Homo sapiens: one gene and its partners. The protein of the gene in region 5 purifies or fractionates together with the protein of the main gene of each other region. This does not show direct contact. Each region holds a gene or a part of one and is shown on either strand. Other genes may lie near its edges. The genes, in order: VDAC3, GNB4, PALS1, PDP1 and PLEKHG5.

Region 1 (4,893 bases), on a different chromosome or scaffold from region 5:
CCGAGAATACCAGTACCTGAAACCTCCACAGAATTACCGGGATGTCCCAGGATGCTCAGATCAATTTGGTGGTGGTTGTTGGTGACCAAAACAGACCTGCTTCCAGATACTGTCAAGATGAGAGGGCAGCAGAGGAAGCAGTAACATCTCCAAAGGGTCATCTTACCATGAGGTAAGCCATGCTCTGGGCTCCCTCTATCCCAGTGGTTCTTCTACAGAGGCTGGAGCTTCCTCAAGTTTGGGGTGCAGGCTGAGGGGCCAGTGACCACCAGCAGCACAGCCTGCACACCACGTGCACCAGCCTCCTGGCAAGGTTTTGCTATGAGGATAGCACCGCAAGGATGGATATTCACCAAGGCATGCTAAATCTGAGTACCATCACTTCTCAGCATGCTAATGGCTACAATATTTTGGGCAACTGCACTGATACTAAGGAATAAATTATAAACACTCACACATGTGTGTGCAGCTGGAAGTCCGCAGCCTTGTAACCCAGGGCGAAATTATTCTGTGACAGTTTGGATTTGGCTGTGTCAAAACTCATCTGATAGCCAGCAAGCCACCCTTCGAAGGCCAACACAGCCCAGCCATAGATGGTTGGTCCAGAAAAATCTATATCAACATTACTGCCAACACTAAAACAATCCCGTTTATAGGAGGCCTTCAATTTCCCACTCTTCTTTCTGCAATAAACAAACAAACAAAAGCAAATGATGAAAACAACATGAGTTCTTACTACTGTCTAGGAATTTTTAGAGTAAGATCCTCTCTCTCATCTCCCAATGTAAATATTATTTTGGTACATGCCACATATATAGTAAAAACATTTCAAATGACCTAGTTCTACAAATATAATTTTGTTAGGATTAGACATGTATAGACTACTATCATCTATTACTCATTATAAGTTCAAATGATAGGATACTTCATGATTTATTTCATAAAAGCATGAACAAAAGTATAAGAATGAATAAGAGGCTGGGTGTGGTGGCTCACACCTGTAATCCCAGCACTTTGGGAGGCCAAGGTGGGCGGATGACGAGGCCAGGAGATTGAGACCATCCTGGCCAACATGGTGAAACCCCGTTTCTACTAAAAATACAAAAATTAGCTGGGCGTGGTGGCACACGCCTGTAGTCCCAGCTACTTGGGAGGCTGAGGCAGGAGAATCACTTGAACCTGGGAGGCAGAGGTTGCAGTGAGCCAAGATCATGCCACTGTACTCCAGCCTGGCGACAGAGCGAGACTCGTCTCAAAAGAAAAAAAAAGAATGAATAAGATATTTCAGTGCCAAATTAATAATCTGAAGGTGTATGTATACAGACGTACAAGAAGCCAAATCTCTTTAAATGTTTCCAAATGCCAAATGCCACAAAGAATTAATCCCCAATATACATTATTAACCTATCATGGAGAGAAGCATGCTTTTTTGAAGGACAATACTGAAAAAATGAAATTAGTTCTTAATAACCCTATTCCAATCAAGCCTCTTGTAGGAATATTTGTCCTGGCCGGGCACAGTGGCTCATGCCTGTAAGCCCAGCATTTTGGGAGGCCGAGCCAGGCGGAACACGAGGTCAAGACAGAGACCATCCTGCCCAACGTGGTAAAACTCCGTCTCTACTAAAAATACAAAAATTAGCTGGGCGTGGTGGTGCATGCCTGTAGTCCCAGCTATTTGGGAGGCTGAGGCAGGAGAATTGCTTGAACCCAGGAGGCAGAGTTTGCAGTGAGCTGAGATAGTGCCACTATACTCCAGCAAGACTCCATCTCAAAAAAAAAAAAAAAAAAAAAAAAGAAAAGAATATTTGTCCTAAAGATAACTGAAGTGTGTGGCAAAAAGAACACACCTGTTGTTACGGCTGAGACAAATGTCACTTTGCATTCATCTAGCAACCTCCGTCCTTCAGATAGCATGGACCCACATTAGGCAGATAGGAAATGACACAATCCCCCTTTTTTTCACGAGGAAATTGAGGTCAAGAAGTTGGGGGATTTACAGAGGCTAAGAAATCAAGTAGGCAGCAGAACTAATCATTATAGCATCTGAGAGCCAGATCACCTTCTTAAGAAATTAACTTTTCAGCACCATAAGAGAGGGTGAGGGGGAAAAAAAAGGAATTAACTTTTTTTTTTTTTTTTGAGACAGAGTCTCGCTCTGTTGCCCAGGCTGGAGTGCATCTCGGCTCACTGCAAGCTCCGCCTCCTGGGTTCATGCCATTCTCCTGCCTCAGCCTCCTGAGTAGCTGGGACTACAGGCGCCCACCACCATGCCTGGCTAATTTTTTGTATTTTTTAGTAGAGATGGGGTTTCACCGTGTTAGCCAGGATGGTTTCCATCTCCGGACCTCATGATCCGCCCATCTCGGCCTCCCAAAGTGCTAGGATTACAGGCGTGAGCCACCACGCCCAGCCAAAAGGAATTAACTTTCTCAGCAGAATACCATGTCCATCAATCTTCAGAATTGCTTAAGATTCATCTATGGTCTCAAGACTCTTCTAGCTCCTAAATTTTTTCTACCATGTGTCTCTCTCAAATACATTTATACATTTTTGCTCATCTATTCAGTTTTCAAATTGTTCATCCTGCCTTGGTGGGGAGGGATCTTCCTTTATCTGTATTACCTATACAAGGTCTCCAATATTCCTTATAGCAACCTTCTGAGTTCTTCCTGCCTCTGAACTTTGCACTATATCTCCTTATTCTAAAGCTCTCTACCCTTTCAGGCTCCAAAAACGTTTCAGGAAATGGGATTTGAATAATTACCCTGTGTTCGGTACAAATATGGTATCAAGAGTCAGTTTCAACCCTTCAGCCAACTGAAAAACAAAGATTTAAAATAAATAATTAGTAATTTTCAATCATTTATCCAACTCAAGAAACCAATTCTAAAGTTTCCTGAGTTCTTTAACAAAAAAAAGGAGTCATTCAAGAAAGCAAAATATTAAATTATGTAATAAGTAAGCTCTCCATCCTCCTGTCCCCTCACCCCAGCCTTCATCATGGTTCTCCCACTAAAAAATGGGGCAAATCCTATTTTAGCAAGTTACATAAAATACAGTTCAAAACCAAACAGAATTCCCATACAACAAAATCATCTTGATACTCTCTTGAAAGAGCAGTAATGAGATAACCTGACATTTAACAAGCAGGCTAAGTCATTTTACTCAGTTTTGCATGTACATTATCTATACATGGTATCTCTATCAAAAACAGTGCCCTGTACATAGTGGGCACTTGACTATATCTAATAGATTTTCTCCTTGAAAACATGAGAACATTTTAGAAAAATTTTTCTGTCAAGCCAATTTTTCAACAATTACAAAACTAAACCAAATTTCCGCAAATAGTTTGTTCTACCCAGGAGAAGCTTAGCTGTGTAACAGAGAACCAGTCAGAACAAAGATGTAATATAGTAATTAGAGTACTCACAAACAAAGCCTTATTTTCTAGAAACATAAGACATCAAAAAAGGCCACATGCAGAGAAAAAATATGGCTACTAGATAGGTTGTAAGATCTCTTTTGATTATATTTGGGGTATGTTCATCATTCAATCTACAAGATAAATTGAACCTATGAATAACTTCTAATGCGTTCTCTTACCTTATTCTCCCAAGAGATTTCTGTCCCTAGAGTATTGTCTGTGTTCCATTTCTGGGTGAAGGTAAGTCCATAGTTACAGACCTTATATTTGGTTTCTAGGTTGCCTGATGCTTTCCCTGTATCAGTGTAAGCATGACCAGAAGTAGAAAATTCCTGGTAAGCAAGAAAAAATAATTACTTTAAAATTAGCTCATCAAATAGAAAATATTCACTTTGGAAAGCAGTGTTCAATGTATCAAAAACAATACCATTTACTGCTTGCCACAGCCCTACTCTAGAGCAACTTCTTTCCTCCTTTCCCCTTGCTTTTCCAGTCCCTAAATATTTTAACCAGTTCTGCCAGGCGCAGTGGCTCATGCCTGTAATCCCAGCATGTTACGAGGCCAAGGCGGGTGGATCCCTTGAGTCCAGGAGCTCAAGACCAGCCTGCGCAACATGGCAAAACCCCATCTCTACAAAAAATACAAAAAATTAGCCAGGCATGATGGCACGTGACTGTAGTCCCAGCCTGAGCCCAGGAGGCAGAGGTTGCAGTGAGCCGAGATCATGCCACTTCACCCTAGCCTGGGCAACGGAGTGAGACAGCTCAATACCAGTTTCAGATCTTTCCATTACTCTACTTCTCTTATTAATATCTCTTGTTCCATATACTCTCTTACCAAATGGTAATCCTAAATTCTCTCCTTTAAAAAAGAAGTATCTTTACTGAAAACAAATGCCTTTACTAAAAAGACCAAAAATATTGTATCTTAAACATTTTACTTTCATGACCTAAAAAAAGATTATCAGTTCTCTGCTATATGTTTCAAACTATCAGTTAATTTCAAGGTCCTTAAAAATCCCAAAATACTGCCCTCCTCCTTTTTAATAGGGTCAACACTTTACTACTTCCTTTTAAAAATGTTTTTTTTTATTGTGGTAAATACATGTAACATACATTTTACCATTTTAATAATGTTTTAAGTGTACAGTGAAGTGGCATTAAGTACAGTCACACTGCTGTGAAAACTTTAATGCTTTTGTGTGCAAAACTGCAAAACTTCTGCTTAGACAATTTCAATATTTGAAAGTACTACCCATTTTTCAAAATAAAGTAGAATGCTATAATTTATCCTTCTTTCCCCCTTTCTATCCTGTCTACCTTTAAGAGTGCTTTCTATCAAACAGTTACTATGAATGAGACTCTGTCTCAAAAAAATAAAATAAAATAAAATACATCCTTTGCCCTAGTTCAGTGCCCTTTAAGTCATATGACAATAAGCAATTAGAAATGGACCTCCTTCTGGG
Region 2 (4,893 bases), on a different chromosome or scaffold from region 5:
TAATGGCAGCAGAACTAAGATTAGGTCCCGGGTTGCACTGACTTCAAAAGCTATACTCCACACTAATCAGCTGCTTTTTTCATCCTTATTGTTCTCTCTTTGGGTTGTTCACTTTGGTCCCAGAAAGACGAGACTTTTTTCTCATCTGAATTCACTGGTAGAACATCCACGATCTGCTTGTTTACTCATGATAATCCCTCCACTTTGGAAAAAAAAAAAAAAAGTGATATTCACCAGCAATTAAAAACCTAGGTTGCCAGGAACAGTGGCTCATGCCTGTAATCCCAACACTTTGGGAGGCCGAGGCAGGAAGATTGCTTCAGCTCAGGAGTTCGAGACCAGCCTGGACAACATGGCAAAACCCCATCTCTATAAAAAATACAAAATTGGCCATGCATGGTGGTGTGTACCTGTAATCCTAGCTACCAGGAGACTGAGGTGGGAGGATCGCTTGAGCCCAGGAGGTCGAGGCTGCAGTGAGCCGTGACTGCACCGCTGCACTCCAGCCTGGACGACAGAGCAAGACTGTCTCAAAAAAACAAAAAAATAACAACAAAAAAAAATCCAACAATAACAAAAAAGATCTAGGACTATGAATTGAAGCTTTCTTTTTTAAAAAATCAAAAACCCTTATGACTTGGAGATTCAAAGTTATAAGAGCACATTACTTGTAAGAATCCTTGAAGGCAATTTGTTGTTAAAATCATGCCATAGAGCTCAACACTTTAAATGCATAATAAATTTTCTCTAGAAATGCTATTCACTTACACTGACAGCATTGATATCTGAGACATGTCCCGTGAAAGACTGTCTACACATTCCATCTCGAATATCCCATAATTTGGAAGAGGCATCACAAGCACCAGAAACAAAAGTCCTCATGTCAGGACTCAAAGAAAGACTCATCACATCTCCAGAATGCCCAGTGAATGTGGTGGTCTGCTGGGCAGTTTCGATGTCCCATAAAGCACTGTAATTAAAAACAAAATTTCATGACAATTACTTCTTCTTATGTCAGTTCCTGCTACCACCCTCAAACCCATAATCAGTGTGCTTCTGGAATAAACTTACCAAGTTGTATCTCCTGAACTTGTAACAATTTGGCTGTCATCTAAAAAACGACAGCAGGACAAGTACCCTACAGCATAAAGAGTAGCAAATTTTAGGTTATCACTGATTGAATAACTCAGTTACCATGTGAAATAGCAATATATATTTTTAAAAATAGAATACTTGGGCAACAAGTGTTTGTCAATATAGTCTATAGTTCTACTTTTAGTTACTTCAAATCCTACATTGTCTATAAACCAAATTTTATCCACAAACCATTCTTAGGCATTAACTATGTTAATGACATTGTGCTGGGTACTCTGAAAGTTACCAAATTGAATAAGACACAGCCCCTGCCACCTAAGACAATTACCTTGGGAAGAACTATAATCTATGGCCGACTGTGTTAAGCACCCTGGAGAAATAGTTTTAAAATACTGTGAGAGGATGCCTCTGGGTGCACCGCCTATGAGTTAGCCCTTCTCTGCAAGGAGCAGTTAAAAAAATTTTTTTTTCAAATAAAAAATATTAAAAAAATAAAATATTGTAAGAAATCAGAAGAACAACAGTGAAGACTTTATGAAAGATGTGGCATTTGAATGCTTAGCATTCATCAGTGTTTCAAAATATGGAAATGTCAGAAAAACACCATTCTAGAGATTTTGTAAAAGCATGGTCAAATAGTATGGCTAAAAATTCAGATGGATAGATACCAGATAAGTGGCAATAAATTCCTGATTAACACCACTAACCCAATACTACACTATTGAACTATGATGGGCACACTGGCAAACAAAGCAATACACTATCATGGTGAAAAGCACTTCACTAATGTACCTTAATGCATACTTTCAATTATGTAATTGAGTACAGATGCCACAATCCCATAATTGTTATATGGCAGCAGAAAATGGAGAACATTTTATTTGCTTTATTTTTCATGAGTTTGAATTTTGTGCAGTAAATTTATCATTTTTTACAAAAACAATACAGCTATTTTTGAAAAATAAAATTATGATCAACGTTTGTATGACTATAAAAAGTTAATGTTTCCTTTGTTCATAATAATTTCATTCCCACCCGATTAATCCTCATCCTTTAGCCAGCCGAGCACAATCTGTCATTTGTCCTTGATCAGCACATTCCACACAAGGAATCGTGTGGTGGGAAAGAATATTTAGGGAAGCTCACCTGTGTGACCTGGCAACTCTCGGCTTACTCTCACATTTCCCTCTCTGGTCTTTAAGTTATATATAGAGCAGATGTTGTCCAAGCCTCCACAGGCAACATAATTACCAGAGGGAGCATAAGCACAGGTCATCACCCAGGAGGACCTCAAAGGAATAGCATGCATCTGTAGGGCACACACCACACATCACTCAGATTACAAAAACAGTCATCTATTGCATAAACCCATTTACAATGAAGTAAATATTATTAAAAATTAAACACATCTAAGAAAGATAAGTCAAATAAAATAATGTAATGGCTTGAGAAAGTGAACCATGAAAAATACAACACTAACGCACATTAAAATGCCTATTGTTTTGTATTATCAAATCATTTGAGTCAAAAAGTGCTCTTTTTGGAAATAATTCTCTTAATAAAATAATGAACATAAAGATGTTCCAAGGTTAATATACTGCCATTTGAAAAATTAAGTGTAAAATGTTAGAGGTTTTAATAGAATTTTCACTTTTGTAATAGTGCTCAGAAGAGAAATTTCCTCCAACATAACTCTGAACAAGAACTAGGGAAATAATTAGCAAGTATCAGAGTCGATTACATGAGTCTTCCATGAAAAGACAACACTGGCATCCCTCTATTAATAGGCCCTTATTCTGGGATCTCATTCAAACAATGGTGATAGTTTTTTATTGCTCTAGAAACAACACTGTCTGCTGCCTTGTTACCCTAACACCAATCATTTGAAGGTCAGATGGAAAAAAGGTGTATGAGAATACCACGGCTAAACAGTCCATACAGGGAATCAACACGTGGCAGGATTACTACTATGCTCTCACTTAACCTAAAATAATACGCTTAAAATACATTTTTTTTGTTTTATGAAAATATAGTTGAAAGATAATGTGCTTAATGATGATTAATAAAGAAAAACTATTATATTACAAAATTGTCTTAGCTAGCTTTAAAATCTCAATCAGGTTGAAATTATTATTTCACAAAATGGTATTTTCAAATGTTTAATAAAAATACTAATATGTATACACAGAGTATAAAGGTATTAGCTTATCAAAGTATTCCTGAAGCTTTTTCACCACTCAACTATTTTAAACTGGGGATTCCTTCCAGTGGATGTATTAGGACCATCCACAGTCTTTTACCACCAAGAGATCTACGTAAGTTGTCATTTACCTCCAATCTACTGTATCTTCTAAAAAGTCCAGAAGCACAAATCAGTGCCTGGAGCGGGCCAAAGAAGAGCTTCCCACTAGCCATCTAACTTATCCAAAACTAGAAATAAAAATCTCAAGGTCTTTGTCATATTAGGAAATGGGAATTTTTAAAAATCATTTATTAGTATATGTAAAATGGTACTCTTCTAATATTCATATATTAAATATGAGCCCTCTAGTAAAACATAGAGTCATCTTTGGAAATGAAAAAGGGTTAAACATTAAAAGTAAACACTAAGACAAAAGAGAAGAACTAGATTAAAATAAACAATAAATTTATCTCAGAAAGCAATTTAAGTTTGAGGTAAAAGAATAAAGGAAAGAACTGGTGAACAGCCAAACAAATATAAGGTTATTTAAAAGAATTATGAAGAAATTCTACCTTATTTGTTGTATAGCTATCCCAAATAATTAATTTTCCATCTTGAGAAGCACTGACTAGCAGCCTAGAGGAACAAACACAAAAATAATTTGACACTTAGAGGGAAAAAATAGCTTAAATTGGTTATGCATTGCATTAATGTAGAATAATTCAGAAAAATACAATTTTTCCAACTAAAAACTTGATACCAAAAAATGTTCTTCCAACTTTTAAAAAATTTATGCTGCATGCCAAAAATCTTGAACATATTTCATAAAATAAAATTTAGCAACTGACTAAAAATGTCTGGCTATGATTAAACATTTTTGTGGTAACAACATCTTAGTTATACAAGATTTGGGTGGATATTAGCTGACTGGTTTAGTACTTACTGACTTACTTAAATTTCATGACAAGAATGTACATAGAAGCCTAACAACCATATTTCATCCAATCTAAAAACACCAATTGAGAGCCTGAGAATATGACAATACTAGAGGTACAACGCAGGATACATCGCCTGCTCTTGAGGCCTCTACCATCTGGTGAAGATAAGACATTTACTCATATTTATATTAAATCAAGTAAGTAAAAACTGTCAGAAGAGGGGTATAAAATAAATGCCACAGGAGAGTAAAGGAGGAACAATGGCTAGATGAGTTAATCACAAGAGAATGAGTCTTGAAAGAAAATGTTGAGAGCTAAAGATACAGAAAAGGCTGTATTTTAGGAGAAAGCTATGTAAGATCAATGACAGGTAGAAAAATACACTGAGTGTTGTTTCAGGAATTGTGGGTCTTCCAGTAGTACAGTTTGTGAGAAAATGGAAAAATAAGTTGAGAAAAGCAGACTGGGCTTAAACTGCAGAAAGCTTTGTTAAACTAAAGAGTATGAACTCCTAAGTAATTTTAGCCACTAAATTTTTTGTTTTGTTTGGATTTTTTTTTTTTTTTTGAGACAGACACTCACTGTGACACCCAGGTTAGAGTGCAATGGCACGATCTCAGCCCACTGCAACCTCCGCCTCTCAGGTTCAAGTGATTCTCCTGCCTCAGCCTCCCGAAT
Region 3 (4,893 bases), on a different chromosome or scaffold from region 5:
AAGGAGCGACCTTCATAGCTTTCCTTCTGTCTCTCCCAACCTCAGGAGCTCCTTTCCAACCCTGTCACGGCCACAATGGTTACCTTTGCTTTGGCATCTTCACGACTCATATTATGAACCATCTGGGACTCAATATATCCTGTTTTATACCACTATTTAGGTTTTCACATATTTTGTCTTATCTCACCAACAAAACTACAAGCTTCAAGAACACACACTGTTTCCCTACAAACATTTGTTTTCAAACATTCTAGACACTATAACCTCTTCCTAATAGTAACATCTGTAATATGGAGTGAACCTTTCTGGTTGGAGCAAGGACCTAAAATGCCATTTACTTTTGGCTCTAGTAAAGAGCCCTTGCCCTATACTATCTGCTGCAGAGAGTTAAAAGTATCCTACCAGAGTTTGGGAAACTATATAGAGTAGCCTACTTTAAAATACTGACTGAAGGAAAGGGCCATTTTACAAAGATAAGCAGGCAGCAAGGCTATGTGCAAAACTTATCCTGAACCCTCTAATTATCAGGCACATGGGTTCAAGAAAGTGAAACTCACCTCAAATCACCCCTGCCAATGAAGACAACTAACTTAAACTCAAGACAAAATGTCTCAGATATAAAAGTCACACATCAATACTATATTGGACCCATAGTACAAAACAATTTATATCATTCAACTGTTTGAACTTCTGTAACAGTAAGAAAACATATTAAAAATATGACAACTCTGGCTTGTCCTGAGGCAGTTTCTTGCATGACTCTCATTCTGGAATGTTGTACATCTGAATATGGCACACAGAATCCTTTGTTCCCAGCAGGGAATCTACTTCACCACTGTAACTGAACACACTGACATTTTTGCTAAAACTTATGTCTACCGTAAGCTCAAGATTATTGGAAGAACATTCTAGGACTCCACAGAGAACTGAAACTTTGTGGTATTGGAGTTGAAATGAAAATGATAAAGCCCGAATCCACCTAGTTTTTATCAAATTTAAGGCATTGTTATTCCATTTTGTGCCAAAATGGCTTATATCACTTATTTAGTACTTCATGTCTGAAGTTCTCTTTCAAATTACAATCCACGACTAAGATGAAACAAAATGTTTTAGCTCAAAATTTTTAGCTGAACTAGGCAAAACTGACAATAAGTTCATACTGCTAGATAGCCACTCTCAAGCCTTCATACTAGCAGAACAGATTCAGAGATTCAGAATGCAACTAGATAACCGGTTGGTTACATTTTGTAACGCCATCATTTTCTTAGCACAATTTTATAGAGTTAAAATTGAAAATCTGTTTTACTTCAGCACTTCTATCATTGAGTAATAAAGCACTATTAGAAATACCAATACCAGCGCAGGGGCTCCCCCGCCTGTAATCTCAGCACTTTGGGAGGCCAAGGTAGGTGGATCACATGGGGCCGGGAGCTTGAGACCAGCCTGGCCAACAGGGCAAAACCCCGTCTCTATTAAAAATACAAAAAATAGCCAGGCGTGATGGTGCACATCTGTAATCCCAGCTACTTGGGAGGCTGAGGCATGAGAATCACTTAAACCCAGGAAGCAGAGGTTGCAGTGAACCAAGATTGTGCCACTGCACTCCAGCCTGGGCGACAGAGTGAGACTCTGTCTCAAAAAAAAGAAAGAAATATCACAGGAGAAAAAAACTTAAGTAGAATAAATACAATCAGATACACCATCCTCTACACCAAAAACTGTGGAATACACATCCTAACAGGTGTGCACAGAACATTCACCAAGAAAGAACAGATGTTGGGCCATAAAATAAGGCTCAACAAATTTGAAAAGACTGACATCTTTCAGGGTCTGACCACCTGGAATTATAAATCAGTTAAAATCTTTTTCACATCTCCAAATAGGTGGAAACTATATAACATACTTCTAAATAACTCATGTGTTAAAGAGAAAAACAAGGAAGCGGGGTGCCGGGGGCTCAGGCCCATAATCCCAGCACTTTGGAAGGCTGAGGCAGGTGGATCACCTGAGGTCGGGAGTTTGGGACCAGCCTGACCAACATGGAGAAACCCCATCTCTACTAAAAATACAAAATTAGCTGGGCGTGGTGGTGCATGCCTATAATCCCAGCTACTCGGGAGGCTGAGGCAAGAGAATTGCTTGAACCCGGGAGGCAGAGGTTGCAGTGAGCAGAGATAGTGCCACTGCACTCCAGCCTGGGCAACAAGAGCGAAACCCCATCTCAAAAAAAAAAAAAAAAAAAATGAAGGGAAATTAGAAAATACTTCTAACAAAATGGTAACAAAAATACAATGCCAAAACTTACGGGATGCAACTAAAGAACTGTTTCGAGGGAAATTTATAATTTCAAATGCCTACATTTGAAAAGAAGAGTTTAAAAATTAAGCATTCATCTTGAGAAACTAAAGCAAGTGCAAATTATAGTCAAAGAAAGCATAAAAAGAAATGAATTAAATAGAAAAGAGACAATAAAGACAAATGCCCTCCAACTTATTTCTTTTGCTAAAGTGTCTGATTATTCCTTTTGATAATAATAATAATAATTATTATTATTATTATTTATTTCCTGGTTCCAGATTGTGTCTTTATTCCTCTTTCTGACAGACAGCAGAGCATTTGTCTGGCATATATTCTCTCTTACCACAATATAGATGATTTTCTGTGACTTTAACAATACATACAAGAAAAAAATCACATCTTTATGCCAATACCATTCTTTCACAATACTAGAAGAACAGATTCAGAGTACAATTACATAACTGGTTGGTTACATTTTGCATCCAGTGAGTAACACCATCATCTTCTTAGTTTCTATATCTATTTATTTATTTATTTATTTATTTATTTATTTATTTATTTATTTTTGAGACCAAGTCTTGCTGTGTTGCCCAGGCTGGAGTGCAGTAGCACGAACTCGGCCTCTTCAGTAGCCAGTACCACAGGCGTGCACCACCATGCCTGGCTAATGTTTTTTGTATTTTTAGTAGAGACAGGATTTCACTATGTTGCCCAGGCTGGTCTCGAACTCCTGGCCTCAAGTGATGCGTCCGCCGTATCTCAAAATAATAAGAGCTATTTATGACAAACCCACAGCCAATATCATACTGAATGGACAAAAACTGGAAGCATTCCCTTTGAAAACTGGCGCAAGACAGGGATGCCCTCTCTCACCACTCCTATTCAACACAGTGTTGGAAGTTCTGGCCAGGGCAATCAGGCAGGAGAAAGAAATAAAGGGTATTCAATTAGGAAAAGAGGAAGTCGAATTATCCCTGTTTGCAGATGACATGATTGTACATGTAGAAAACTCCATCGTCTCAGCCCAAAATCTCCTTAAGCTGATAAGCAACTTCAGCAAAGTCTCAGGATACAAAATCAATGTGCAGAAATCACAAGCATTCCTATACATCAATAACAGACAAAGAGAGAGCCAAATCATGAGTGAACTCCCATTCACAATTGCTACAAAGAGAATAAAATACCTAGGAATCCAACTTACAAGGGATGTGAAGGACCTCTTCAAGGAGAACTACAAACCACTGCTCAACCAAGTAAAAGAGGACCAAACAAATGGAAGAACATTCCATGCTCATGGATGGGAAGAATCAATATTGTGAAAATGGCCATACTGCCCAAGGTAATTTATAGATTCAATGCCATCCCCATCAAGCTACCAATGACTTTCTTCACAGAATTGGAAAAAACTACTTTAAAGTTCATATGGAACCAAAAAAGAGCCTGCATTGCCAAGACAACCCTAAGCCAAAAGAATAAAGCTGAAGGCATCACCCTATCCAACTTCAAACTATACTACAAGGCTACAGTAACCAAAACAGCATGCTACTGGTACCAAAACAGAGATACAGACCAATGGAACAGAACAGAGCCCTCAGAAATAATACCACACATCTACAACCATCTGATCTTTGACAAACCTGACAAAAAGAAGAAATGGGGAAAGGATGCCCTATTTAATAAATGGTGCTGGGAAAACTGGCTAGCCATATGTAGAAAGCTGAAACTGGATCCCTTCCTTACACCTTATACAAAAGTTAATTCAAGATGGATTAAAGACTTAAATGTTAGACCTAAAACCAGAAAAACCCTAGAAGAAAACCTAGGCAATACCATTCAGGACATAGGCATGGGCAAGGACTTCATGACTAAAACACCAAAAGCAATGGCAACAAAACTCAAAATTGACAAATGGGATCTAATTAAAGAGCTTCTGCACAGCAAAAGAAACTACCATCAGAGTGAATAGGCAACCTACAGAATGGGAGAAAATTTTTACCATCTACCCATCTGACAAAGGGCTAATATCCAGAATCTACAAAGAACTTAAACAAATTTCCAAGAAAAAATCAAACAATCCCATCAAAAAGTGGGCAAAGGATATGAACAGACACTTCTCAAAAGAAGACATTCATGCAGCCAACAGACACATGAAAAAATGCTCATCATCACTGGCCATCAGAGAAATGCAAATCAAAACCACAATGAGATACCATCTCACACCAGTTAGAATGGCGATCATTAAAAAGTCGGAAACAACAGGTGCTGGAGAGGATGTGGAGAAATAGGAACACTTTTACACTGTTGGTGGGACCGTAAACTAGTTCAACCATTGTGGAAGACAGTGTGGTGATTCCTCAAGGATCTAGAACTAGAAATACCATTTGACCCAGCCATCCCATTACTGGGTATATACCCAAAGGATTATAAATCATGCTGCTATAAAGACACATGCACACGTACATTGACTGCAGCACTATTTACGATAGCAAAGACTTGGAACCAACCCAAATCAATGATAGACTGGATTAAGAAAATGTGGCACATATACACCATGGAATACTATGCAGCCAAAAAAAGGATGAGTTCATGTCTTTT
Region 4 (4,716 bases), on a different chromosome or scaffold from region 5:
CCAAACAGCATTTCTGAGAATTATTAATCTAAAAATTATCTTTAAAGGGGGGCAGGGGGAGACTGACAACATCCATCAATAGAGAATGGATAAATTGTGATACATTCAAACACTGGAATGCTACCCAGTAATAAGGAACAGACTATGAATACAATCAACAACATAAGTGAATCTCCAAAAATTGAGCAAAAGTAAAACATAAAAAGTACATATGTGGGCCAGGTGCAGTGGCTTACGCCTGTGATCCCAGTACTTTGGGAGGCTGATGTGGGCAGATCACTTGAGGTCAGGAGTTTGAGACCAGTCTGGCTAACATGGTGAAATCCCGTCTCCACCAAAAATACAAAAGTTAGCCATGTGTGGTGGCACATGCTTGTAGTCCCATCTACTTGGGAGGCTGAGGCAGGATGATTGCTCAAACCCAGGATGCGGAGGCTGCAGTGAGCCGAGATCATGCACTCCAGCCAGGGCGACAGAGCAAGACTGTCTGAAAAAAAAAAAAAGTACATGTATGATTTATATAAATTTCTAGAAGCAAAATTATGGTGAGAGAAGTGGAATGATACTTATGAGGGGAGGGATTAATGGAAAGGGGCATAGGGAATTTTCTGAAGAAAAAGTTTTATATCTTTGTTGGGGTGTTACCAAATGTTACATCGCAAATTTTAAATCTGTGCATTTTGTTTAAATTATACCTCAATTTTGGCCAGGCATGGTGGCTCACACCTGTAATCCAAACACTTTGGGAGGCCGAGGCGGGTGGATCACAAGGTCAGGAGTTGAAGACCAGCCTGGCCAACATGGTGAAACCCCATCTCTACTAAAAATACAAAAATTAGCCAGGTGTGGTGGCCCGCACCTGTAGTCCCAGCTACTTGGGAGGCTGAGGCAGAAGAACTGCTTGAACCCAGGAGGCAGAGGCTGCAGTAAGATGAGATCGCACCACTGCACTCCAGCCTGGGTGACAGAGCGAGACTCCATCTCAAAAAAAAAAGAAAAAAAATTTTACCTCAATTTTTACAAATTTGAAGTACTATGTATCTACTGGGTCCTAAAATTAAATATAATCTACCACACATAGGAAGCATCTAATCAATCTTGTTATTAAAAACCAACACAGGACATTCAGAAAGCAGATATGAAGCTTTAATTCACCATAGGCATTTCTCCAACCATTCTGTACATTAAACTTTCATGTCTTCACACATATACATCTTTTATAAGACAGTTTTCTTAGCAATATGGTACTCTGTACCATACCAACATTCCATTTAACTAGTTAAGGGTGTATTATATAACATGAACCACTGATTAAATATAAATACAGAAGTTGAATACATAGGTTAGAAAGTTTAAATTTTAAAAAAATTTAAGAAAGGCTAAATACCATGAAAGTTTACATGTATTCTTTAATTCTAGACACCGTACAACAGTGACAACCAATTACAATAAAATCACAATTGCTTTTAGATGACAGTACTTTCAGATTTCTAATACCCAATTACTTTCATTTCCACAATGTCAACTTCATGCTGCATTTTCATTTCTATAGAGCAGACAAGCTTCCAGACTGCAGACCAAGTTTCTTGTGTAATAATACTACTATCTTGATCATGACCACAGGAAACCAATTTTATATTCCCTGTACTATAGAGATGAGACATTATTTGGTGTATATGAAACTCTTCAGTGGTGGTGTTCAAGAATATTCAAATAGTAGCTGAAAATAGGGTTTGCTAGAGCAGTCCACATATTTCATTAAAAGAAAAATGCCCAGTCAAAACATTTAGAAATAAATATATAGTACAGCCTTTCCCTCTCCCAAATACTACCCAGGAAAAAAGTTCCAAGCTGACTTAAAAAAAAAAAAACACACAAATAAAAACAAAAACACCTCAAAAAATAAACATTATATGATATTCTGAGCAGCAATCTTCCTGAGTCTATTTTCAATTGAAACAAATTCTGCAGCCAATAGTACACTGATTCAGTATCCACAGTCCAGAAGGAGTTCTTGAACATCTAGTTCATATCCCCAAAAAATGTGAAAAGACTCCTAAACACCCAAGTTATTACACAATGGGAAGCTGATATTGGCTTGTATTAAAATCCAGGTGAATATCAAACATAATCACAGCCTTAACAGTGATGCTAGAATAAGTGATGACAATATGTGCACAGCTGTATACAGATCACTATTAAACACAGGAACAAAATGCCACTTGATGCATATCAAAAAGCCAATTTGAATATATTTATTTCATTTACATTGATACAGTATTAGAAGGGACTGAATATAATTATGGAGACTGCTGCAAACATTTGATGCCACTAAGTATTCTATTAAGCATCAGGCATGCACAGTAGTTACCTTTTAAAGTTTCTCATGTATATATCTTAACACATATATCTTAAGCTACAATATGTTTAAAGCATTTAGTCATTTTAAACCCAAATATTTTAATTGACCTATGTCTAAATGGAGAAAAACAGAAACTTCCTCCTGTCTCAATACCCGATGGCAATATTAAACCTTACTCCCCAAATTGATATTTAAACTTATTTATGTCATCTTTAAAATTCCAAAAATAATGAAAAGTCTTATCATTACTAAATAAGAAGTACGATTCCCCGGCAGCAGTCTACCCACCACACACTTACGGCATGCCAAGCCTTTGGGGATTACATAAGAGTGATGTGCTGGTGGCTACAGATGACAATAATTGAAGAGATCAGTCTCTTCTTTTTATTCTGGATCTCCTTATTTTAAACTAAAGCTTTTCATTAATACAAATAAAAAAATCTTTTTTTCTTTCTTTAACTTCAATAGAAGAGTAGATAAAACTAAAAACCCTTATTGTCTCCAAGTGTGTGGCAAAATAGAAAATCTTTCAATTACATTAGGAAATCGGGTGGATAACGGAGTATAGTTATTCCACTTAAGAAGCATTCCAGTCAAATAATCACAAAAACAAATTCAGATTGCTTGGATCTTGGTCATTTATGGCTTGAAGAACTGGATTTGAAAACCACTTTAGGCTAAAATAAATGTATATGAATAATGCATAGACTGTGTATCTAGAAAATCATGCAATAAATATATGTTCTCATGTACACTGGAATCTCAGTGAAGAAAGGTGTGAACAGTACTGTTTCTTCACTTTAACCAAGAGACTACACACAGCAAGATACTTGCTTTTGGCCTATTCAAGATCTTATTTGCCAGGTCATCCTAATTTTCTCAGGTTGGTAAAAGAAGCTAATGTTTCAAGACACCTGTGATAAAGAAGTGACTTGCTTCAAGTGCAGGTGCCATGAAATCTGAGCTAGGCAGGACCAGACTCTCCTGACCCTGCCACCCTGCTGCAAAGTCAATTTGGAGTACCTGACTAGCTAGAGTATCAAAAGGGTAAATGCTTAGAATGACCAACTGGAAATGTTTATTATAGTAGTATCTTTTTAAAAAATCTGCCCTTTAAATGTATATCATTTGAGAATTGCCAGTGAAAGAGCCACTCACTATTCTTGGTTTTGATACGCCCCTACAACATGAGAATTGAACTGAACTACAATGATTGTAATGTCATCTCTGTACATTCGAGCAAGCTCTTCAGGAAGACTAAGCATTTTAGAGAGGCGCTCATGATCAACAGTCCCAAACTCGTTGTTGCCCACAGCGTGGCGAATGAGATGGGTTGCTGCGTTCTGATCCTCAAATACCGAGGACATTTTGGTTCTCCTTTCTGTTAAAAGGCCATGCATCTGTCCCAGAGTCACCTTGTAGCCACCAACAGCTATTGGCTGTTGGTGATGCATGCCAGTTAGGTACTCACCCACAATCCTAACCACATCCTGCCTATGCATAGTCTCCCACAACCCATCAGTAGCCAACACCAGAAACTTATCCTGTGGCCTTAATCGGTGGTAAGTTACCTCTGGCTCAGCAGTGAGATAAGGAGGTGTGTGATAATTAGGAGGAATAAACTTGGTATATTCATTGTCATTCAACTGGTCTGGGCCAGATTCTATCACTCTCTTTTGAAGGTCAATGCTCCATTTGAACTTTACATCTCCAAATGCCCTAAATGGCATCAGCAAGCCAAGCAGCCGATCCTGTTTCACGACACTCTTGGCCTCACTCTTTGGATGTTCCAATTTCAGCCGTTCTAGTTCTCTTTCATTTTGAGCATTGTGGTCATTAGACAGCGTGACTGCTGACCATGAGCCGTCCTCTTCCTGCACACCCAGCATGGCTCTGCTATCGCCAGTATTGGCCACATGAAGGTCAACACCATCCACATGGGCCACACAAGCAGTGGCTCCAGAAAATGCCACTCGAAGCACCAGGTAGTTGAGAAAAGAATTAGGATCACCAACTTGCGCCTCCAAGGAGATGTCATTATCAAGCCTCTTGAAGGCATTAATTAGAGCCTCCTTAACATCAATATCAGTCGACTCACCAGTGTTGAGGTCTATAAGCTCTTGCCAGTAAGTCCTCAAGCTGTTAAAGTACAATTTGGATGCCTCCTTACTAAAGTAATCATTGGGGTGCTTGTGCCACTGGAGAATGGGTAGCAGTGCCCGGCCGCTCTCCACTGCATTTTCAATCTCTAGCAAAGTCTCATGGGGTAACAAAGAGACAGCAATATAATAAAAGAGTCTTTCACTGACTGCCTGGGAACAAGCACAACCTGCATGGCCATCAAAAACCCCCAA
Region 5 (4,893 bases):
GCAGATTTGATACCCTGATTCGCTCCTTACGGAAGAGTCAGTATTCAACAAATACGGACTGAGCCCTATGACGCACCCCACCCTGGATCCCTTGAAAGCCTCGAGATCAGTTTCCCTGCTGTGATGGTCTGGGTGGCCACTACCATCACTGAGGCTGCTCGACTCCTCCAGCTGCTGCCAGGGGCTGGTGCCCAGGCCCGGCTGACCTCATCTGCTTCCCTCCTCTCAGCAGTCCCCAGGCTCAGGGGCACTGGGGGCACAGTGAGGCTCAGCCCCAGGATCTGAACCAGGTGGTTTCCGACTTCGTCGAGCAGATCTGGTTGACGATGAAGTTCTGGAAGCCCCCCGGGAGAACCATGAGCCCAACTGAGAAGCTGGGGTGGGCAGAGCTCCCTGGTGCAGTTTCTGCTCCCCGTTCTGCCTCACGTCCCACCCCCAAACCCCAGAGTCTCCCCAGCTCCCTCCAGAGGCAGGACTCCCCCAGCACTAGGGCGGAATGGCCCCTTCTTGAAGCCAGACTCCAGCCCCTTCTCTCAGACCCAACTGCCCCTCCCTCACCTGCCTGCCTGCCCACCATGTCCTGCCTCTGTCCTGCAGGAGGGACACCAGGGTCCGGGGGGGAATGTTCCCAGGTCTCAACCCAAGGGAGGAGAGAGCCCACCCATGGGAACAGCCAGCTCCCACCCCCTCTAACGCCAGGCAGCCAAAATAACAGAGGGGGGCCCTTTGGGGAATACACGCATGTGAGGATGGGGACAGAGAACCAGGCGTCCACCCTCACACAAGGGCTGGGGCCAGAGGCACAAGGAGAAACAGAGGCCTCTGGGGTAGGAGGAGGCTGTGGGCAGGGCCAGGGCAGAGGAAGGAAAGGAGAGGGGCGGCCCAGCATAGGGCCCGGGACCCACAGGTGTGTCCGGAGCTGGCCCCAGACACAAAGCGCCAAGAATTGGCGGGGACATCTCAGCCGGCGGGGACACACCCCGGAGTCCGAGGTCCCCGTCACCAGGGTGCAGCTGCCCAGGTAGGGGGCTCGGCCGCCATGGGCCGCATCCTTCCCCTGGGGGCCGCGGGGCCCATAGTCACGGGCACCCCCTCCCTGGCCTCCCGCACAGGACTGGGCGGCTGCAGGCGAGAACTGGGCACCCAGCCCCGTTCCCGCCCCGTCCCGGCCCCGTACCTGGCTATCACCGTCGCGGGCACGACCCCCGGCCCAGGAGGGCTCCGAGTCCCGGAGGGGCAGCCCCGGGCCCGGCCTGGAGGCTGCTAGGCGTCCGGAGACACCGGGTCCTGTCCCCATGGCGGCCGGAGGAAGCCGCGGTCTGCGCCGCCCGCCGGACAAAGCGCGGAGCCCCGCTTCCTGCCATTGTGCGGCCGCGCCCGCCCCCGCCGAGCGCGGGGACCCCGGGGAGGGCCGGGCCCGGAACAGCCCCCAGCCCCCCAGGAAGGCGGACACCTCCCTCCCGCCCGGGCCCTCGCCACCCAGCCCCGGGGATCCCCGCCTCCCCGCCCGGGAACCCCTACACCCCCGCCTCCGCCTGCCCGGGCGACCCCCCGCCTCCCCGCCTCTGCCCAGACCCGGGGACTCCACACCCCTACCTCTGCCCGGCCGGGGGACCCCCACAGCCCCGCCTCCGCCCAGTCCCCGGGACCCCCACCTTCCCACCTCTGCCTGGCCCGGGGTACCCCCACCTCTGCGCCTCTGCGCGGCCCCGGGCCCCTCTCTTCTCTGACTCCCTCCTCAACACCAATGCCGGGCTCAGAGGGCTCCTCAGAACTTGCTCTTTCTCCTGGGGAGCTCCTTGAATGCTGGAGGCAGGGGGCGCTGGTGACACCCCCCCCCACCTTGGAGACTGTGGAGCCCCTCCCCTGGGTGACTCGATCCCCGCCCAGCCCTGGGGGTGCCCACTCTGCTGTGGTCCCCACCTCACCCTCAGCGCCAACACGCACGGTCCCTCCCAGCCAGAAGGGTACCTTCCCTCCTCCCTTCCTCCTGGAGACCCCCACCCCCGCCTCGGAGCCTCAGCCCAGGGGACCCCTTCTTACTCCCAGCAAGGGAGCTCTTAGAATACAGGCACCAGAAGGGGGAGGCCAGGATGGGGCACACTCCCCTCAGGGTCCTTGGTCCGGCTCTCCATCTAGCCCCAGGGACACCCCTCTCTGCTCCAACACCAGCTTTGAGCCCCAGTCACACACCCACCCCAACCTCACAACCAGCTCTCATCTCAGCCCCTCCCATCAACCTGGAGACCCCTGCCCGAGAGCCTGAGCCCCAGGGACACCCCCTCACACCGACTGCTCACTGCCCAGGTACGGCAGAGGCCGAGAGCCAAAGGCCGGTGGCCTCTGGAAAGGGCCGTGGGCAGAAGGCGGGCTGCTCTGAGAGGCTATCCTTGGCAGCCCCCAGGAGCTGGGTGAGGTGGAGGCATCAGGAAACCCTGGCGACCCACATGGCACAGCAGCCCAGGTCCCTGCAGTTCTAGGCCAGGTCCCCACCGCCAGGGGGCACTCAGCAAAGCCTGAGAGGACGCAAACGCCCAGACTCTGGTGCTGGAGTCACCACTACACGGCTGTCAAAGCGCTTTTACACTGATTCCCAGGAAGGCAGGGCAGGCACCATTAGCCCCATTCACGGCGTGGGGGATAAAGTGACATAAAGAGACAAAAGTCTACAGGCAAGACTGAAACTCAGACTGTGGCTCTGGGATTCTGGGATGGCCTCCTTGGGACACTCCTCAGAACCCATGGGGGTGAGGTGGCCATGCTGTCTGTCATCAGCCCACCCACCCCTAATTGCTCCTCCTCCACCTGGTTCCATGGGGAAAGAGGGTGGGAAGGGGGCCAGGGTCCGTGAGATGGCTTTGGGAGGGCAGCAGCGTTTTATTAGAGGCTGGGAGACTTCCAGGGCTGTCTCCACTCCCAAAGCCCAGGTCACCCACTGTCTACACCACAGGCAGAGTTGTGTTTTTGTTTTTTGTTTGTTTGTTTTTGAGACGGAATCTTGCTCTGTCACTCACGTTGGAGTGCAGTGGCATGATCCCAGCTCACTACGACCTCCACCTCCCAGGTTCAAGTGATTCTTCTGCCTCAGCCTCCCCAGTAGCTGGGATTACAGGCGCCCGCCACTACACCCAGCTACTTTTTGTATTTTAGTAGAGATGGGGTTTCGCCATGTTGACCAGGCTGGTCACTAACTCCTGATCTCAAGTGATCCACCCCCACCTTGGCCTCCCAAAGTGCTGAGATTACAGGCATGAGCCACCACACCCGGCCAACAGGCAGAGTTTTGAAAACTAAAACTTCCCATCTTGCTTATAGTGAAATCCCACCATGGCCGGGCTCCCGCCTCCCTCCCAGCTGGTCCGCACAGGGTCCACCTGCCGGTCTTCCTTCTCTCCCTACAGCTCGCCAAGCTCAGGGCCTTCTCCTCTGTATTTTCTGTCTGGAATTCCACGCACCCTATCTTGAAACAGCTGACACCGGGCCCCAACTTAAATGTTACCTCTAAGACGTCCTTTTCCCTCATCTTAAAATAAACCACCCTTACCCTCCCACTCTCAATTCCTTTAAGTTAAATTATTTCCTTCTTAGTGTTTATTACTACCTGTAATTCATTTCTTTGTTCACTTTTTTATCATCATTCTTCCCTACCAGACTGTCCTCTCCAGAAGCCAGCGCCTTGGCCGTCTGCATCTCACTGTGTCCTCGGCACTTAGAACAGTCCTGGTGCACAGTAGGTGCGCTTGGTGGGGATGAGATCAGTGAACAGATGAAGGCAGAAGGGCCTTCATGCCACAGAAGGACATGGGGACAGGAAAGGGCTCGGCCAGGATATCCCTTCCTGTGGCCGACAGTCAACAGAGCCTTCCCCACTGCCAGACCGAAGGTCTCTTCCTCCTCCTAGTATCCATGACCTTGGGCCTGCTGGCCCTGGGCAGGTGAGTTCCTACTTCAAATCGGGTGGTCTTGCCCCAGACCTCCACCCCCATACTGTCCTGTAGGCAGATAACTGCATTTCACTGAGCATTCCATGTGCCACCCCATCGTGGGAGTTCCAGGCAGTGAATCCCATTCGCTCTTCTCAAAGACTCTTAGGAGGAGATACTGTTACAATCCCCATTTAACAGATAGAGAAACTAAGGCCTGTGTCAACTGACTTGCCCCAAAGTCACCAGCTGCTGCTACGTAGGGAAATGGGTGCCTCAGGCACAGGGCAGGCGTGGGGCCTGAAGACAGCTGAATGTTGGTTTGGGCAACAGGGCCCTGGAGATTGCCTTCCTGAAGACACGGCAGATCCCAAAGCCAGCTTGTGGGGAGCCCACCGGTGTGGGGTAACCAGGTTGCATCAAGTGGAGACCACCAGGGCTGGGTCAGGGCGGATCACCAGAGGTCACCTGAGTGCCTGGGCCCTGGCCATCCCTGAGTGAGGCTGCTGCCTGGGTACTCAGCAAGGGTGGGGGACTGTTCCTTAGGGGCAAGAGTGCAGAGCAGAAAGGAGCCCCCAGCCCCTGTACCAGGGCAGTGGGGTGGGCCTGGGCAGGCTCCTGCATTCCCACCTCCTCTCCACAGCAGGGAGCTGAAACAGCTCAGGGGCAGGCCCAAGAAGTCCTGGCCCCCAACTCCCTGGGGAGGGAGCCCCTCCCCAGCCCAGCCCCAGCTCCAGGCTTGTGAGTCAGGGCCGGCTTGTTGAAACTGATACCCAGAAACCAGATGCGGAGGCTGATGAATAATGGAGTCTCCAAGGCAGGACCCCCGCACCCGGCTGTTCTCCCTCAGTATCACCTCCCCCAGCCCCAGAAAAGCAGATGGGAAACCAGGGATCCCCCAGGCATCCCTGCCCCACAACGAGCTGGGGCCCCAGCCTGGTCTGGGTGGGAGAGGGACTTCCCTGTCCAG

Evidence for each region.
Region 1: the proteins of PLEKHG5 (region 5) and VDAC3 fractionate together in Homo sapiens (co-fractionation; one large-scale study listed by BioGRID). This does not show direct contact.
Region 2: the proteins of PLEKHG5 (region 5) and GNB4 purify together in Homo sapiens (affinity purification with mass spectrometry; one large-scale study listed by BioGRID and IntAct). This does not show direct contact.
Region 3: the proteins of PLEKHG5 (region 5) and PALS1 purify together in Homo sapiens (co-immunoprecipitation; one large-scale study listed by IntAct). This does not show direct contact.
Region 4: the proteins of PLEKHG5 (region 5) and PDP1 purify together in Homo sapiens (affinity purification with mass spectrometry; 2 studies listed by BioGRID and IntAct, with this or other methods). This does not show direct contact.

Annotation. Positions count from the first base shown.
Region 1 is NC_000008.11:42,397,578-42,402,470, reverse strand, and holds part of VDAC3 (non-selective voltage-gated ion channel VDAC3), read right to left. Parts: intron 3,760-4,893; coding exon 3,607-3,759; intron 2,821-3,606; coding exon 2,768-2,820; intron 684-2,767; coding exon 456-683; intron 1-455. UniProt on the Homo sapiens protein: Non-selective voltage-gated ion channel that mediates the transport of anions and cations through the mitochondrion outer membrane and plasma membrane.
Region 2 is NC_000003.12:179,412,644-179,417,536, forward strand, and holds part of GNB4 (guanine nucleotide-binding protein subunit beta-4), read right to left. Parts: intron 3,914-4,893; coding exon 3,850-3,913; intron 2,405-3,849; coding exon 2,242-2,404; intron 1,139-2,241; coding exon 1,072-1,138; intron 971-1,071; coding exon 769-970; intron 1-768. UniProt on the Homo sapiens protein: Guanine nucleotide-binding proteins (G proteins) are involved as a modulator or transducer in various transmembrane signaling systems.
Region 3 is NC_000014.9:67,327,806-67,332,698, reverse strand, and holds part of PALS1 (protein PALS1), read right to left. Parts: intron 1-4,893. UniProt on the Homo sapiens protein: Plays a role in tight junction biogenesis and in the establishment of cell polarity in epithelial cells.
Region 4 is NC_000008.11:93,922,477-93,927,192, reverse strand, and holds the end of PDP1 (pyruvate dehyrogenase phosphatase catalytic subunit 1), read right to left. Parts: coding exon 3,520-4,716; 3' UTR 1,125-3,519; downstream 1-1,124. UniProt on the Homo sapiens protein: Mitochondrial enzyme that catalyzes the dephosphorylation and concomitant reactivation of the alpha subunit of the E1 component of the pyruvate dehydrogenase complex (PDC), thereby stimulating the conversion of pyruvate into acetyl-CoA.
Region 5 is NC_000001.11:6,484,147-6,489,039, forward strand, and holds part of PLEKHG5 (pleckstrin homology domain-containing family G member 5), read right to left. Parts: intron 1,806-4,893; exon of another isoform or gene 1,690-1,805; intron 1,322-1,689; exon of another isoform or gene 1,298-1,321; coding exon of another isoform or gene 1,178-1,297; intron 1-1,177. UniProt on the Homo sapiens protein: Functions as a guanine exchange factor (GEF) for RAB26 and thus regulates autophagy of synaptic vesicles in axon terminal of motoneurons. Involved in the control of neuronal cell differentiation.